Linked DNA regions of Homo sapiens: region 2 is linked to region 1. A link means that fine-mapping ties the variant in region 1 to the expression of a gene that starts in the linked region. Tissue or cell type: blood mononuclear cells. Region 1 holds a variant in brackets; the other region holds the start of a gene. All regions are shown on one strand. Distances are between the middles of the regions.

What was found. PIP is the estimated chance that this variant, and not a neighbour inherited with it, causes the effect.
Region 2: it holds the start of DCAF4L1, and the variant in region 1 is fine-mapped to the expression of DCAF4L1 in blood mononuclear cells (TOPMed, PIP 0.98).

Annotation. Positions count from the first base shown.
Region 1 is chr4:41,891,792-41,894,477 of GRCh38, reverse strand. No RefSeq gene overlaps it. Among named protein-coding and RNA genes, the nearest start is that of LINC00682, 11 kb to the right of the region's middle. The variant A/T (reference allele first, on the strand shown) is at 1,549.
Region 2 is chr4:41,980,183-41,982,868 of GRCh38, reverse strand. DCAF4L1 (DDB1 and CUL4 associated factor 4 like 1) reads right to left here and starts at 1,113. Exons shown (of 1, transcript NM_001029955.4): 1 at 1-1,113. The coding sequence starts at 1,076. RefSeq lists enhancers at 1-623, 183-1,382.

The sequences.
Region 1 (2,686 bases):
AACAAGCATGTGAATTAGAAATGAACTTAAGACTTTTGCTGTCTTTATTGTATAACACAGCAAAACAAGTCACCTCTGAGAGGGTGACTGCTCTTCCTATGCTCTCTCTCACTTGCCCCTCCAAGCAGCTGAACACAACTTTAGGTATGACTTAGCATTATCCAGTCCTATACCTTGACTGGCACTGTGCCCACTGCCTGGAGGGCCTTCTGCCCCTTAGCCAGCTGCATGACCCGCATGGCTTGACGAATGCCACTTCCTTCAGGAAGCCTAGAAATTAATTTGCAAAGTAGATTCATTTTGGCCCAGTTCCCTGATGGGCACTACCCTCTTGGCTCTCCAGGCTTCCATGGCACTCTGCTGTTACTTTCCACAGCACTTATCTGCCTTGCAGTGCTGTGGTTTCTATATACACCCAATCTCAGTGGAAATGGCAGTAGTTCCTTTGAAGAGAAATGAGTGCAGGAGTCAAGGCAGGGGTGGAACTTGGAAGCAGGAAACTGTGTTTGCTTCACACTTGACATGAAGATTAACACACTGTGAGATGGGGGTTTTGTGGGAGCTTCATGTGCTCCTCTTCCCCTAGCAGTCACCATCTAGTTTGCTCCCATTTTCCTATATGGTGATCCAGAGCACAACCTTTGCAGCCAACCCTCTGCCCCTTCCTAGTTGGGTGGCCTTTCCAGTTGTGTGGTGTTCAGCAAATGACTGTACATAACATATGCCACAGAGTTATTGTAAAGATGGACTGTGTTAATACTTGTAAGGTGCTAACAATGGGCCCTGGTACTTCTCAAGCCCCATCTTGGCTCAATTTTTTTAGAGACAGGACCTCACTCTTAACCCAGGCTGGAGAGCAGTGGCATGATCATGGCTCAATGTAGCCTCGAACTCCTGGGCTCAAGGTTCAACCTCCCAAGTAGCTGGGACTACTGGTGTGTGCCTTCATGCCTGGATCATTATTTTTTTAAAAACGTTTTTATAGAGATGAGGTCTTGCTATGTTTCCCAGGCTGGTCTCAAACTCCTGACCTCAAGTGATCCTCCCAAGTTGGCCTCCCAAAGTGCTGGGATTATAGGTGTGAGCCACCATCTCTGGCCCGCATCTTTGTTCTTATTGTCACAATCTTTTAGCAGGCAGAGTCCTTCTTGGTTCTCTTTTGCATCTGCCTCTTTCCAGCCCCTCTCCCAGGGCCTTGCTTATAGGAAAGACTCATCAAGTCTGTTGAAGTGAGACTTGGTGTCTGGAGGGAGGGAGGTGGGAGGGGAATTGGGAGAGGAAGAGCAGTGAACCATGGTGAAATACTGTCACGGCAATAAGAATCTTGAGATAGCCCAAGTTACAGGGCTATCCCAGGTTCAGGGGCAAAAGTTGGGGATAGAGCCCAGAATGATCATTTGTAGTAGTGTCAAATACATGATCTTAGAAGGAAAAGAAAAGTGTCTACCTTAGTCCATAGAACTTACTTGTTCATTTTGATGTTACATACAGCATGCTTAACTTTGCTGTGAGGAAACCTATACTCTTTCATTTATTGCTTTCTAAAAA[A/T]GGCTGTTGTTCACCACCTCCATCTTTCATATACTCAGGGATCACAAGGGATCTTGTTCACAGGGCAGATTGTAATTCAGTAGGTCAGGGCAGGGCCTTAGATTCTGTATTTCAAATAAACTTTCAGGTGATACTGATGCTACTGGTCCACAGACCACACTTTGAGAAGCTAGGATATACAAAATGGGTGAAGAGGGGAGAAAAAAAAGCACATACCATTTTCCCTATCATTGCAAAATAAGCAGATATCAAGGTCAATGATAGTCCATTCTAACTTGAGTTGTTTCAAGATATGTATGGCTGTGGTAGGGGGTTTTGTCACAATGCATTTCCTTTGCTCTCCCAGCTAGGTGACACTGAAGTGGTCATTTATAACTACGTTACTATGGAGACAGGAAAGATATATATTTATCCAAACCTGGGGATGAATTAATCTTAAAAAGATGAGTACAAGTACTTCAACAGATGAGGACGATCTGAAGGTTAGGTAGGTATTTCAAGTGGATTAAAAAGGGCTAAGTTATATTTCTTTTTAAAATGTATTTTTCTTTTCATTTTTAGTTGATATGTAATAGTTGTACTTTTTAAAAATTTTCTTTAAGAGTCAATCACAGGCTGGGCACAGTGACTTACACCTGTAATCCCAGCACTTTGGGAGGCCGAGGCAGGCAAATCGCTTGAGCCCAGGAGATTGAGACCAGCCTGGGCAACATGGTGAAAACCCATCTCTATAAAAAAGACAAAAATCAGCCGGGCATGGTGCTGCATGCCTGTAGTCCCAGCTACTTGGGAGGCTGAGGTGGAAGGATTGCTTGAGCCCAGGAGGTCAAGGCTGCAGTGAGCTGTGGGCATGCCACTACACTCCAGCCTGGGTGACACAGCGACATAGACCATTGCTGCAGAATCATCTGGTATATTTTTTCAGATGCGGGCTTCTGGGCCCCACTCTAGATATAATAAAATGATCTCTGAGGGAAATCTGAGAATCTGAATCTTTTATAAACACCTATCCAAGCAATTCTTACACCATTAAAATTCAAAAAGCACACGCTTAGAGCCTTTGAGGTCTCTGCTGAGACTTAAATATCATTTGATGAGCTTGCAATACAGTTAATGGATAATAGCGTGAGTGGTGATA
Region 2 (2,686 bases), 88 kb before region 1:
GAGGCAGAGTACGGGGAAGGGATGGTTCTGAGCAGGTGGGCATCATGGAGGCTCCAGATTCTCGTGTAGCAGTCCTGGCCCACTGCCACCACGATTCCCTCTTCCTCGTGCACATGCAGGGGCAGATAGGCGGACTCATTCACGTGACCTTCGTACTGCCTTACACATTTAGTGGCCCTCAGATCCCACAGCTTGATCTTTCCAGTCATGTCTGATGCCATCAGGCATTGCTCTTCTTGGAGGATTTGCACAGAGGTCACTGCTGAGTCATGGAACAGGCGAGTGGCCCTCCACCCCTTGCCTCGATTTCTACAACGCAGATCAATGGCAAAGATCTCCCCGGAGCGACAGCCATTAAACAGCAAAGGAGCCGTACTAGCAAACTGCTGGGCCAAGACATCACTGCTGGTATCAAATGACTGCTGGTGTCCCGTCGCCACGCTGGTCAACAGGACCTGCTGAGACAAGCCTGCACTAAAGCAGTGATATGCCCGGGTGTTGAGGGACCACGCACAGGACCAGGCCTCTGGGATCTGGAAACTGCAGAGCATGCCAGGCTGGTTAACTCTTGTGTGAACACTTAAGAACCGCGACGCTGGGAGCAGCACTGCACAGCTTGGAGCATCTGTGATTCCCTCGAAGCACAGCAGAACGTGAGAGTCCAACTGGTTCAGCGAGGCCCAGCACAGGGACTTCACCTTCCGGTTGGGGACGTAGAGGTTTCTGAGCACGTACACGTGGAACGAAGGGATCTTCAGAGTTCGCAGGCTGATGATGCCGTACTTGGAGCCTTCGACTTCGACCTGGTTCACTACGAAGAGCTGGTCGCTGTTGGTACTCGCCAGAATGAAGTTAAATCGGTCGCTCGCCAAAGAGGAGGGATCCAAGCTCCGAATTTGGACCTTTTTCCGCTCCATGCAGCTCACACGCAGCTCGTTGGCTAAACGGGAGTAACTGGTGACGTTGAGGAAACCTAGCTGGCTTTTTCGGAGCATGGAAGATGCATTAAATCCCATTCTGGCTACCTTTTTCAGCTTGGCCTCTTCCTCGAGGAGTCGCAGCCTTTCAGCCTCCATTTCCTCCTGCGGAATGTTCCTCGTGACAGGAAATTCTGCAGGATGTTCTTCTCCGTGACAGGATGTTCTTTTCCGTGACAGGAAGTTCCGTCCGGGTGCAAGCGGAAGTGTTGCTACTTTTTATCCTCTCTATTCTAGGAGGAAGTCCATTGTTACAGATGTGTATTACAAATCTCTTTTCCTACTCTGTGGGTTGTCGTATTCTCTCAGTGGTGTCTTGATGAAAGGAAGTTCTTGATGTTAAATTTTTTCCTTTCTCTTTTTGAGACAGGGTCTTGCTCTTTCACCCAGGCTGGAGTCCAGTGGCACGACCACGGCTCACTGCAGCCTGGAACTCCTGGGCTCAAGTGATTCTCCTACCTCTGCCCTACTTAGCTGGGACTATGGGCTCACAACACCATGCCAGGCTACTTTTTTTGTAAAGATGGGGTCTCCCTGCTTTGCCGATGCTAGTCTGGAACTCTTGAGCTCAAGCAGCCTGTCCGCCTCAGCCTCCCAAAGTGCTGGGATTACAAGCATGAGCCCACGCGCCCTGCCTGTATTTCTTATTTTTTTATTTTTTATTTTAAGACGGAGTCTCGCTCTGTCGGCCAGGCTGGAGTACAGTGGCGCGATCTCGGTTCACTGCAAGCTCTGCCTCCCACGTTCACGCCATTCTCCTGCCTCAGCCTCCCAAGTGGCTGGGACTACAGGCGCCCGCCACCACGCCTGGCTAATTTTTTTTGTATTTTTAGTAGAGACAGGGTTTCACCGTGTTAGCCAGATGGTCTCGATCTGCTGACCTCATGATCGGCCCGCCTCAGCCTCCTAAAGTTCCGGGATTACAAGCGTGAGCCACTGCGCCCGGCCGCCTGTATTTTTAAAATACAGTTAGAGACCAGCCTGGGCGGCATGGTGAAACTTTGTCTCTAAAAAAATACAAAGATTAGGCCGGGCGCAGTGGCTCACGCCTGTAATCCCAGCACTTTGGGAGGCGCAGGCAGGCGGATCACGAGGTCAAGAGATTGAGACCATCCCGGCTAACACGGTGAAACCCCGTCTCTACCAACAATTAAAAAAATTAGCCGGGCATCGTGGCGGGCGCCTGTAGACCCAGCTACTCTGGAGGCTGAGGCAAGAGAATGGCGTGAACCCGGGAGGCGGAGCTTGCAGTGAGCCGAGATCGCGCCACTGCATTCTAGCCTGGGCAACAGAGCAAGACTCTGTCTCAAAAAATAAATAAATAAATAAAATACAAAAATTAGCGGGGTATGGTGCACACCTGTAGACCCAGCTACTCAGGAGACTGGGAGGGAAAATCACTTGAGCCTAGGAGTCTTGGAGGGAAAATCACCTGAGCCCTGAAAGTTGAGGCTGCAGTGATCACCCCACTGCACTCCAGCCCAGCTGGGAGACAGAATAAGACCCTGTCTCAAAAAGAAAGAAAAATAAGTAAATAAATTATGAATTTATCCAAATTGTCCATTTGTTTCATTAATGGTTAGTGTCTTTCATGTTCTGTTCAGGACATTAGTACCTATTACATGATACTAGTAAAGTTTTGGGGTGTCTTCAAGAGGAGGCTGATATCTCCAGTCCCCATCTGGATGTTTCCTTTGCCACAAAGCTTG